Regions from separate parts of the Homo sapiens genome. Here regions 1 and 2 are each linked to region 3. The links come from fine-mapping of genetic effects on gene expression. A gene starts in region 3. Each other region holds a variant in brackets. All regions are shown on one strand. Distances are between the middles of the regions. Region 1 overlaps DNAH8 (dynein axonemal heavy chain 8). Region 2 overlaps BTBD9 (BTB domain containing 9). Region 3 holds the start of GLO1 (glyoxalase I).

Region 1 (4,000 bases), 56 kb before region 3:
GTGGGGTGGGGGGAGGGGGGAGGGATAGCATTAGGAGATATACCTAATGCTAAATGACGAGTTAATGGGTGCAGCACACCAACATGGCACATGTATACATATGTAACAAACCTGCACATTGTGCACATGTACCCTAAAACTGAAAGTATAATAATAATAAAATTTAAAATAATAATAATAAATAAATAAAATACAATCCAAAAAAAAAATGAAGAGCAAATGAGTGAGCCAGAAAAGGGCAAAGATGGAAGAAAAAAATTAAGAGAAATGGAAGTTAGATGCAAGGGGAGAGAATAAATTGAATGGGTAGGTGTGTTAGTCCATTTACATTGCTATCAAGGAATACCTGAGAATGGGTAATTTATAGAGAAAAGAGGTTTATTTGGCTCACAGCTCTGTAGGCTGTACACGAAGCATAGCACCGGCATCTGCTTCTGATGACGACCCCAGGAAGCTTACAATCATGGTAGAAAGCAAAGTGGGAACTGGCCTCATATGAGAGCAAGCAAGAGAGAGATGCCAGGATCTTTTAAACAATCAGCTGTTGCATGAAGTCATTACCACAAGGAGGGCACCAAACCATTCATGAGGGATCCACCCCCATGGCCCAGACACTTCCTGCCAGGCCCCATCTCCAACACTGAGGATCACATTTCAACATGAGATTTGGAGGGGACAAATATCCAAACCATATCAGTGAGCTAGAAATAATCCCAGGCAAAAGAGGACTGTTTCTCAGGAATAAAGAGAAAGGAAAGTCTTTGGATTGAGACAACTCAGCAAGTGTAGAACAAGATAAATGTAAAAAAAAAAAGTTTGAGATTTTAGAAATTCAAAGATAAAGAAAAAAAATCCTAAAAGCTTCCTGGGAGAATAAAACTAGTTACCTACAAAGGAAACAAGAATCATATTAGCACCAAGCTTCTCCTCAACAATACTGAATACTAGACAATGATTGAGCAATATCTTCAACTTCCCAGGAGACAATGATGTCGAATTTAAAATCCAAGTCACACTAGCATTTGAGTGATCAGACAAAATGAAAGTGATTTTCAGACATGTAGAAATCCAGGAAGTTCACCACCCTGAAACCTCTCTGAAAGAATTTTTTCAGCAAAAGAAATAATGAATCCAAGAAGGAAAAAGATGTGGGAATCACAAAACAGTGGTGATAAATAAATTAGCAATACTTGGATTTTAGTCTGAATACTTGTTGATTCACAATGTTGAAAAAAATGTTAAGAATAATATGGAACTGTTAAAAAATTATTCAGTGATACTTGCAAAGCAAGAGACTTTATTCAGGACCATTGTGATAGGTATAGGGACCACTGCAATGGGATCTTGTAGCAGGAAAGAGAGATTGGGCTCAACTCTGAACACAGCATGGGCAAGCAGGAATGTATAGCCAAGGGGCAGGATGGGAGTCAGTGGGTGGAAAATTATTAAGAGGAAACATCAGAGGTAAGGGGGATTTTGGTTAAACTGACCTAACAGGATTCTTGCTGAAGACAGGCCAAAGTGATCAGACAACACCTGGGGGGTTGGGGGGAATGAAAACCTGATCAGATATCTAGAGTCATCAGATATCAAGAATGGGGGGTTCTTGCTAAACTGACTTAGCAGGGTTCTTTGCTCAAACTAGATTTCACTAGAAAGTGCAAAGGTGGGCCTACCAGAAGATTCAGAAGCCAAGCAAAGAATCATTGTCAGAACTAAAAATGATCTCAATGTGGGACATATATGGCAAGAATGAGAGAGACAGGTAAAGAGGAAGGATTCTGAGAGTCTTGTCGTATTTAGGACATAGTGATTAAGCCTATACTTTGCTTTTTAAAAAAACTTAAAATGTGACTATGACTTTATATATTTCGTTATGCTTGAATAATTTACAAATAAATTCTATTCATGTGGGTTTTTTCGTTGGTGGTGGTTTGTTTGTTTGTTTGTTTGTTTGTTTGTTTTTTGAGACAGGGTCTTTCTCTCTTGCCTAGGCTGGAGTGCCATGGTGTTATCACAGCTTACTGCATTCTTGAACTCCCAGGCTCAAGGGATCCTCCTGCCTCAGCCTCTGGAATAGCTAGGACTACAGGCACACACCACCATGCCCAGCTAACTTAAAAAAATTTTTTTTTGTAGAGCCAAGGTCTCTCTATGTTGCCCAGGTTGGTCTCAAACTCGTGAGCTCCAGCGATCCTCCCACCTCAGCCTCCCAAAGCGCTGGGATTACAGCCTGAACCACCATGCCTGGTCTCATGTGTTGCTTGAGTAATTTCTCAAATTATTTTAAA[A/T]AAGACCAATATCCCTGATGAACATGGATGCAAAAATCCTCAATAAAATACTGGCAAACCGAATCCAGCAGCACATCAAAAAGCTTATCCACCATGATCAAGTGGGCTTCATCCCTGGGATGCAAGGCTGGTTCAACGTACACAAATCAATAAACATAATCCAGCATATAAACAGAACCAAAGACAAAAACCACATGATTATCTCAACAGATGCAGATAAGGCCTTTGACAAAATTCAACAACCCTTCATGATAAAAACTCTCAATAAATTAGGTATTGATGGGATGTATCTCAAAATAATAAGAGCTATTTATGACAAACCCACAGCCAATATCATACTGAATAGACAAAAACTGGAAGCATTCCCTTTGAAAACTGGCACAAGACAGGGATGCCCTCTCTCACCACTCCTATTCAACATAGTGTTGGAAGTTCTGGCCAGGGCAATCGGGCAGGAGAAGGAAATAAAGGGCATTCAATTAGGAAAAGAGGAAGTCAAATTGTCCCTGTTTGCAGATGACATGATTGTATATCTAGAAAACCCCATCGTCTCAGCCCAAAATCTCCTTAAGCTGATAAGCAACTTCAGCAAAGTCTCAGGATACAAAATCAATGTGCAAAAATCACAAGCATTCTTATACACCAATAACAGACAAACAGAGAGCCAAATCATGAGTGAACTCCCATTCACAATTGCTTCAAAGAGAATAAAATACCTAGGAATCCAACTTACAAGGGATGTGAAGGACCTCTTCGAGGAGAACTACAAACCACTGCTCAAGGAAATAAAAGAAGATATAAACAAATGGAAGAACATTCCATGCTCATGGGTAGGAAGAATCAATATCGTGAAAATGGCCATACTGCCCAAGGTAATTTATAGATTCAGTGCCATCCCCATCAAGCTACCTATGACTTTCTTCATAGAATTGGAAAAAACTACTTTAAAGTTCATATGGCACCAAAAAAGAGCCCTGGCAAAAAATTGCCAAGTCAATCCTAAGCCAAAAGAACAAAGCTAGAGGCATCACGCTACCTGACTTCAAACTATACTACAAGGCTACAGTAACCAAAACAGCATGTACTGGCACCAAAACAGAGATATAGACCAATGGAACAGAACAGAGCCCTCAGAAATAATGCCGCATATCTACAACTATCTGATCTTTGACAAACCTGACAAAAACAAGAAATGGGGAAACGATTCCCTATTTAATAAATGGCACTGGGAAAACTGGCTAGCCATATGTAGAAAGCTGAAAATGGATCCCTTCCTTACACCTTATACAAAAATTAATTCAAGATGGATTAAAGACTTAAATGTTAGACCTAAAACCATAAAAACCCTAGAAGAAAACCTAGGCAATACCATTCAGAGCATAGGTATGGGCAAGGACTTCATGTCTAAAACACCAAAAGCAATGGCAACAGAAGCCAAAATTGACAAATGGGATCTAATTGAACTAAAGAGCTTCTGCACAGCAAAAGAAACTACCATCAGAGTGAACAGGCAACCTACAGAATGGGAGAAAATTTTTGCAATCTACTCATCTGACAAAGGGCTAATATCCAGAATCTACAATGAACTCAAACAAATTTACAAGAAAAAAACAAACAACCCCATCAAAAAGTGGGCAAAGGATATGAACAGACACTTCTCAAAAGAAGACATTTATGCAGCCAAAAGATACATGAAAAAATGCTCATCA
Region 2 (4,352 bases), 88 kb after region 3:
CTAGACCACAAAGAGGACCGAGGAAGGTCAGATTTAGTGGCTCTTAACCACCACATTCTCAAAAACCTGCACCCTTGCCTTTCCTCTTAGACCACAAAGAGGACCGAGAAAGGTTGGATTTAGTAGCCCTTACGGATGCATTCTCAAAAACCTGTTAGTTAGAGTCCTAAGTGTTTTCTCCTGTTGGTGCTGGGACCTTACCCTTGTCCTATGAAGATGATATGCCTCAAAATGGAGTGGAGGGCCATACACTGAGGGAGGGAAGGGATTTCCAGCATTGGAACAGTGACGTCTTTTGTCCTCACTTCTCATCATTTGAATAGGAAGGACATCCCCCCAATTTTGGAGTCTGTAATTTCTGAGGCTCTCCATATCCTGGCTTTGGGAATGGCCTTTGTTAGGCCTGCTAGTCTGAGGAGGCATCCTAAAATTCCAGATAGTACCCCCTATGACGGGGCTTTGGGCAAAAATTATGTCTTTCTGATTGGTAAGCCTGGGTGCCTAAAGAAGGGAACAGAGTCCTGAAATTTATGTTACAAATTATCCTTATAGGAGAAACTAGAAGAGCATCGGGGACAGGGAGTGGTTTTGAGAAGCAGGACTAGCCTTGGAGAAGAGAGGTGGGAGGAACTTCTCTGAGAGGCATTGGGACCCAGGAGGCAAGGGTCAGGATAGATAGAATAGATGGGCAAGTCTCGCTTGGGTGATGTAACCTTGAGAGTTCTGCTCATGGCTGCAGGGTCAACCAACTTTTTGGAGCCGAATGGCTTTCCTCTCTGTTGACCCTCGGCTCAGCCCGGAAGTGCAGGAAAAGCAGAAGCTGGTTCCAGGCAAAGCAACGCTCCCGACTCCGAAGAGGCAAGGGTTGTTAGAGAGCCCTTTCCTAGAAAGCCTGACACCCGTGTCTTTAGTCCGGTGGCCGCACTAGTCACTTTTAACTGGCTGACAGGTGCCCAGTGTTTAGCCCCTGAATTCTAAGGAAAAATAGGACAGAATAGCAAGCGAAAGGGGTCCGATAGTACTCACCGCATAGCGATATCCTGGACAAGTCCCCAAGATGTGTCCGGAGTTTGTTCCTGCTGGTGGGTTCCTGGTCTCACTGACTTCAATAATGAAGCTGCGGACCTTTGTGGTGTTACAGCTCTTAAAGATGGCACAGACCCAAAGAATGAGCGGTAGCAAGGTTTATTGTGAAGAGCAAAAGGACAAAGCTTCCACAGCGTGGAAGGGGACCTGAGCGGGTTGCTGCTGCTGGCTGAGGTGGCCAGCTTTTATTCCTTTATTGTCCCCTCCCATGTTTCGTTTCTGTCCTATCAAAGCGCGCTCTTTTCAGTCCTCCCCGCGATTGGCTACTTTTAGAATCCTGCTGATTCGTGCATTTTACAGAGCACTGATTGGTGCAATTTACAATCCTCTTGTAAGACAGGAAAGTTCCCCAAGTCCCCATCCGACCCAGGAAGTCCAGCTGGCCTCACCTCCCACTCCCACCTCAACTTTCCGAGTAGCTGGGACTATTAGACATGTGCCTGGCTTGCTAATACATTAAAAAAAAGTGTTTAGTAGGTTATATATCTCTGAATTTTATTTCAGAATAGTAGGGCGTTGTAATAAAATATTTGTTATAAAAAGTAGGCGTTGGGTCTGATAGTATTGATGGCCATTATATAAGTAAAAGTCCAAGCATGGCACAACTGGCTTCTCTGCTCAGGGTCTTACTATGCTGAAATCAAAGTGTCAGCAGGGTTATAATCTCATCTGAGGCTCAGGGTCCTCTATTAAGCTCAGTGGTTGGTAGCAGAATTTGGTTCTTGTGATTATACCACTGAGATCCTCCTTTTCTTGCTGGCTGTTAGCTAGAGGTAGCTTTCAGTTCCTAGAGGCCACCCCCAAGTCCTAGCCAATGGGCCTCTCACAACATGGCAGCTTGCTTCTTCAAGGCTAGTTGGAGAAT[C/A]TCCCTCCAGTCAGCTACAAGACTCTTATATAAAGTTACTGGAGTAACTATCCCATCATATTTCCAGGTCCTGCCCACTCTCAAGGGGAGGGGATTATATGGGTGTGTGTATCTGGGAGCAGGGATCTTGGGTGCCATCTTACATTTCTGCCTACCACAGCCAACATTATCCCATCCTCATATGTGTAACTCTTCACTGTCAGTGAAGTGCAGTTATTTGAAAAAGGACCGCAATAATTACTTTAAGCATTCACACAGGTATTGAGTACCTCTATGCCAGGTACTTTTCTAGGCACTGAGGTGAATAGGGCAGAACCCATGCTCTCATGGAGGTTATCTTCTAGGGCTAAGAGCAGTGAAGAAAATCAAATGGAGTAGAAGGTTAGAAATGGTATGGGAGTGAAGGGGGTAGTAGGGTATGTAGGGTGGTTAGGAGCCAAGACCTGAATGGTGAGTGGCCAGTAGTATGAAGCTTTGGGAACAAAACATTCTGGTAGAGGGAAGGTAATGATAAGGATCCTAAGTCAGTAATAAGCTTTGACTGTGTTTAAGGAACAGTAAGGCCAGTGTGGCTGGAGCAGAATGTGCCAGGAGAGGAGTTGGAGATGAGTTTGGGGAGGTGGTTGGGTTGCAGAGCTGTAGATCTTGGTGGAGTATGATTTTTATTCAGCATGAGATAGGAAGGCACTGAAGTGTTTTAAGCAATGGAGTGACTGATCTGATTTATATTTTCAAAAGATTTATGTGGAGAAATGGCATGTAAGGGTGGAAATGTATAAATACAAAGAGATACAATTTGTGAAGGAAAAGAAAAGCCTTCTAAGTGCAGATGACAAGAGCGCTGGCTAGACCCAGGTCAAGGAAGGCTGCATGAGGAAATGGCACCTGAGTTGCACTTGGATGATGGAAGGTGAAAAGAAGAAGCATGGTCCCAACAAGGGATCAACTTATGCCAAAGCCCTGTGGCATAAGGGAGCATGTCAGTGCTAGGGAAAGTCAGGGGGAATGATTAGAGTTAGGCAGGGCCCAGATTCCACAGGCCTTGAAGGCCCAGTTAAACGTTTTTTTCTGTGCTTCTTTTACGATAAGAGCCGTGGAATACCACTGAAGGGTTTTAAATAGGGACAGGAGTTCTGGAGGGAAAGGATGAGGGAAATGGTTTATACTCAAGTTTTGTAATTTGAGAAATTCTTTCTGGCTCCTGCATGGAGGACAGTTTGGAGGAAGGTCTGAGTGGAAAGCGGGAGATCACTTAGGAACTATGTGAGGGTCCGAGTGAGAGATGAAGGTGGAGTGAACTAGAATGGTAGCATGGAAGTTGCAAAGAAGTAAATTGACTTGAAAGCTATCTTAGGAGGTAAAAACAAAAGACTTGCTGATGGATTAGGTTGAGGTCGAAGGCAGTGTCTTTCTGGCTTCCACAGCCGGATTCACTGAGCTAGGGAACATTGCATAAGGACAGGCTTTTACTAGGGAGGGGCATAGAGAGTGTGAATTGAGTTTTGAGGTATCTTTGAGAAAAGTAAGTGCAAATGTAAAGTGGGCAGTGGTAATATAGGGGTCTGGAATTTGGAAGAGAGGTCTGTTAATATCTGTATGGCCTCTTTTGTTAATTTTGGGGTCTTAAATATGCCAGTCACTGTAAGGTGCTGGGGATGTAAAGATGAGTAAGATGTTATTCAGCATTTGTTGAGTGCCTGTAGTCTCTGTGTTCTGGTTATTGTCCTCTGGGAGCTTACTAACCAACAAGACAGGTCCGTAACAAAATCATAGCAAGGTATGATAGGGGCGGTGATGGGGGAACAGAATCTGACAGAAGAGGTGACCTAGATTGGCAGCGTCAGTGAAGGCTTCTGCTGAAGGGCTTGAAGCTTGTTCTGAGCCTTGAAAGAGGCAGAATTAGCCAGACAAGGAGAATACAAGAAGTTCCAATAGTAAAAGGCTGGAGGTATGAGAGGAGAGACTTGACAACTCAGAAGAGCCAGCAGCTCCATATCCCTGGCTCTCACTAACTGGTGAACAAGGTGAATAAGCAGGAGGGCTCCTCACCAGCAAAGTCTGCTTAAGTTGGATGTTTTTATGGTGGTAAGCGTTCTGGTGAGACTTGACATAGCTGTTTGGAAGGAGAGGAAGAGAATACTCATAGCTGGAAGGGACTTCAGAGAACTTTTAGCCCTGTCTTCTCATTTACAAATGAGATTAACAAAAGCCAAAGAGGACAGCTGATTTGCTGATAGGAAAGTCAGGGCCCACATCTCCCAGAGTCCAGATTGAGGTTCCTTACATTGCTACAGGAATGTCAGTACCCCTTAACCATTTATTCCCAGGCTCCCTCTGACATTTTTATATTGAAACAAAATGTGCAGGAAATACACAAAATGCTGTCATTGAGTAATACATG
Region 3 (4,352 bases):
ACAAAAACTAAAATAAAATAAATTATCTGGTTTTGGTGGTGCATGCCTATAGTCTTAGCTATTTGTGAGGCTGAGGTGGGTGGGTGGGTGGATTGCTGGAGCCTGAGAGGTTGAGGCTGCAGTGAGCTGAGACAGCACCACTGCACTCCACACTGGGCAACAGAGTGAGACCCTATCTTGAAAGAAAGAAAGAAGAAAGAAAAGAAAGAAAGAAGAAAGAAAGAAAGAAATAAAGAAAGAAACAAATAAAGAAAGAAGAAAGAAAGAAAGAAAGAAAGAAAGAAAGAAAGAAAGAAAGAAAGAAAGAAAGAAAGAAAGGACTCTGTTGGGATTTTTATTGGAATTTCATTACATGAACAGATTAATTAGTAAATGAATTGATATTTTATGATATTGAGTCTTCCTATTCATTTACATGCTTTATATCTCACATAGTCTGAGAAGCTCACCAGAAAGATTAGTGCAAAAGGGCTGGGAACAGTGGCTCATGCCTGTAATCCCAGCACTTTGGGAGGCCGAGGTGGGCGGATCACCTGAGGTCAGGAGTTTGAGACCAGCCTGGCCAACATGGTGAAACCGTGTCTCTACTAAAAATACAAAAATTAGCCAGCATGGTGGCAGGTGCCTGTAATCCCAGCTACTTGGGAGGCTCAGGCAGGAGAATCGCTTGAACCCAGGAGGTGGAGGTTGCAGTGAGCCAAGATCACACCACTGCATTCCAGCCTGGGCGACAGAGGAAGACTCCATCTAAAAAAGAAAATTAATGCAAAAGAAGACAATTTGGGGGTCTTTTCAATAATTCAGTGGTAACACACAGTATATGGAGAGTTTGTGTATTGCTCCAATTCCCGAGTTTAAAAGGTTTAAGGTCTAGTTCCATATAGAAGTCCTGCAGTTCTAATAGACTGTGTTTTGATGAAATATCCTCAGTAAGTTAGTATGAGGTATGCACAACATTTCTGCTGAAATCCTTATCCTGCCTATCATTTTGCAGTGGACATCCATGGTTCAGTTTGCCTGGCAATCCTCCCTTCTCATAAGAACATCATCGCTCTTCTTTTAGGGAACTAACAGATCCTCCCCAAACTCCAATCAGGTGGTCCTAATCCAGGTTGCCAATCGCAGTGCTTCAATCACAGGAGTAAGCACAGGTCCTAGGCCAGGCCAATCACAGCTCCTTCTTGGATTTTCCAATTTGATAAAATCCAGGCTGGCTGGATAAAATCCAGAGGGAGAGTTTACTCCCACTCCTAGTGAGAGAACAGCTGCCAAATTTCTAGTCTTATGGAGCTGGTGTCTGACAAACTGAAGCTGCGATGCAGAAAAAAGCTGAGATGAGAGACGGGGACATCTTGGTGGTGGCCAGGTGGCTAGTGCCATATACATCCCTGCCCAACCTCATTTTGGTTAGGTGAGCACCAGTCATTCCCATTTATTCTTTTAACAACAGGAAGTATTTAATGAGCATCTACTATTATGAGCCAATCATTGAAGACACAGTGATGACTAAGCCTTCCAGTGAACACAAAATATATATTAATGTAAAAAGTACTGCAAGTTATGGACATTTGGAACCTAAGTAGGCAAACCATGACTTAAATCTCATTTAGGCTGGGCACAGTGGCTACACCTGTAATCCCAGCACTTTGGGAGGCTGAGGCGGGAGGGTCACTTCAGCCCAGGAGTTGAGACCAGCCTGGGCAACATGGTGAAACCCCCATCTCAAAAAAATACAAAAATTAACTGGTCTTGGTTTTGCAGCCTGTAGTCTCAGCTAATCGGGAGGCTGAGGCCAGAGGACAGCTAGAGCCCCGGAAGTCGAGGCAGCAGTGACTGCAGTAAGCTGAGAGCACACCACTGCACTCCAGCCTGGGCGACAGAGCGAGACACTGTTAAAAAAATTAAAAAAAAAAAAAAAAGAAAGAAAGAAAGAAAAGAAAAAAGAAAAAGGAAAAGAAAACTTATTTAATTCTCAACAAATCCTGTTAGGAAGCTCAGAGAGGGTCAGTAATTATTGCAAGTTTCTAGCGCTAATATATAGCGGAACCAAGACTTGAACATAGGTTTTCGACTCAACAATTGTTTTAATTACTCTGCGCTGCGTAAACTGAGAAACCTCTGAATCCTTACAATTTTAAAAGAACAACTTACAGTTTTCAGTTTCCATCAGATTCCAATTTTCTACCAAATTGCAGCCCTGAGGTATGAATGGTTACCAAACTTTAGTTAAACAAACAAAATTAGCTCATTAAGTAACAGAGAAACCACTCTGCCCAGCCTGCATTTTTTTTTTTTTTTTTGTATGAGTTTGCCTCCTTTATGCGCAAGGCTCCTTGGGAGTTGTAGTCTGAGGCATAGTCCTGTGGGTGGAGGCGCTGACTCACTGGGACCCAATCAGCAGAGAGTCAACTTGCTCTCCGCGCAGCGATTGGCTGGAAGTCAGCGGTCTCCCGCCCGCGGCGCCATCGCGCCATTCCTAGTTAAGGCGGCACAGGGCCGAGGCGTAGTGTGGGTGACTCCTCCGTTCCTTGGGTCCCGTCGTCTGTGATACTGCAGCGCAGCCATGGCAGAACCGCAGCCCCCGTCCGGCGGCCTCACGGACGAGGCCGCCCTCAGTTGCTGCTCCGACGCGGACCCCAGTACCAAGGTGGGCACAGGACCGAAGGGAACGGCTCCCCCAGCTCCGCTGGGCCGGGACCGGGCCGCATTCTATCCAACCCCATCCCGCCGCCGCTGCAGGTCCGCCGGCCTCGGGCGGACGGGAGTGTGATGGGAAGAGGGATAATGGTGTTTGATGGGGCGATCGTGGGGCCCGCGAAGTGTGGAGGGGATCTGTTGCCTCAGCTAGTTTCAAAGACTGCGACCCTGTTTTGAATTGGCTTGTTTATGTTGCGACGGTGGCTGGAAGCCAGGCCAACCCAGGGTCAGCTTTCCCAAATCAGTCGCCAAGGCCCACGAGAACAGTAGTTTCAGAACTCCCAGAAATAGGTTCAAAGATGCCTGTCCTGTACCAGTCCTGCCCAGCCTCGTTTTTCCTTACCACCCTGACTGCAGTCTTAACTCCTGCAAACTAATTTGATCGCTCTAAGTTTAACCGCGCCCAGAATTTCACTTTTGCTTGCTTGGCCTTTGCTGTGGGTCACAACAGCCCTTCTTGCCTTCCTCATCTTCGTGGGGCCCAGGAGAGATTACAGAATCATAGAGTTTGGATCTGAAAGGAATCTTAGAAATTCCTTCTCTTACCCTCTCGTTTTACAGTAATGACCCAGTAAGAGAAATGACCTGTTGCATACAAAGGCTTTCACTTACCGAACATGTCTTTACTGGGTAAGAATCAGTGTAACTCACTCAGGTGTGGTGTTTCGGTTGCCTTGTTAAGATCAGACACAGTTGGCGGGCGCGGTGGCTCACGCCTGTAATCCCAGCACTTTGGGAGGCCAAGGCGGGCGGATCACGAGGTCAAGAGGTAGAGACCATCCTAACACGGTGAAACCCCGTCTCTACTAAAAATACAAAAAAATGAGCTGGGCGTGGTGGCGGGTGCCTGTAGTCCCAGCTACTCGGGAGGCTGAGGCAGGAGAATGGCATGAACCCGGGAGGCGGAGCTTGCAGTGAGCTGAGATCGTGCCACTGCACTCCAGCCTGGGCGACAGAGTGAGACTCTGTCTAAAAAAAAAAAAAAAAAAAAATTCAGGCACAGTAACCGCTGTTTATTCCAGTGAAGTCATCAGTGTCTGTAAACACCTTTGTATTTATTTATTTGACTACATCATTTGTAAATTCCTTGAAGATTGAATATGTGCTTCGTGCAGACCTTTAAAAGGGGTAGATAAGTGGTCCATGACTCTGGTCCCTGCTTGTTCTTTACCTTCAGGGCAAAGAGTCAGACACATCTCATTGCTAAAACTTTTGACTAGCACCTGGTACTTGGCTTAGGAAAAATGTTAGTCATTGCAAAATTAAGGGGGAAGGTAAAAAAATTCCGTCATGCCCATCTCACTTGTATATCCCTTAATATTAATACCTGGTTTTTTCATATAATGTAAATTGAGTCACTCAGTGTAAAGTATTTTCCCAGATAACTAGGGGTTTTATGTAATGGGGTTTTCAAATAAAAAGGATTCCAGGGATATCTTTATAAAATATACTAAGTAAATGTCCTTGCAGCTTAATTTACATTCCACAGTATCTAAATTTCTCTTGATGATTCGGAGTAATTAATTTTGAGATCAGTAATTTTTGGCCATGGGAGACATAAAATGGAATACATAATAATAGCTGGTATATATTGAGTGTGCCAGGCCCTGGCTTGGTATTTTAAGTACATTGTTTAATTTAATCCTAACAACAAC

What was found. PIP is the estimated chance that this variant, and not a neighbour inherited with it, causes the effect.
Region 1: its variant is the best candidate, but not a certain one, in a credible set for the expression of GLO1 in nasal epithelium (TOPMed, PIP 0.89).
Region 2: its variant is the best candidate, but not a certain one, in a credible set for the expression of GLO1 in whole blood (INTERVAL, PIP 0.61).

The regions. Positions count from the first base shown.
Region 1 is chr6:38,757,275-38,761,274 of GRCh38, reverse strand. The region is part of intron 10 of DNAH8 (dynein axonemal heavy chain 8); the gene reads right to left. Among named protein-coding and RNA genes, the nearest start is that of DNAH8, 44 kb to the right of the region's middle. The variant A/T (reference allele first, on the strand shown) is at 2,292.
Region 2 is chr6:38,613,658-38,618,009 of GRCh38, reverse strand. All of the region lies in intron 1 of BTBD9 (BTB domain containing 9), which reads left to right. Among named protein-coding and RNA genes, the nearest start is that of BTBD9, 24 kb to the left of the region's middle. The variant C/A (reference allele first, on the strand shown) is at 1,952.
Region 3 is chr6:38,701,266-38,705,617 of GRCh38, reverse strand. It overlaps GLO1 (glyoxalase I), which reads left to right and starts at 2,473. Exons shown (of 6, transcript NM_006708.3): 1 at 2,473-2,647. The coding sequence starts at 2,564. RefSeq lists enhancers at 2,197-2,356, 2,537-2,636, 2,657-2,706, 2,739-3,331.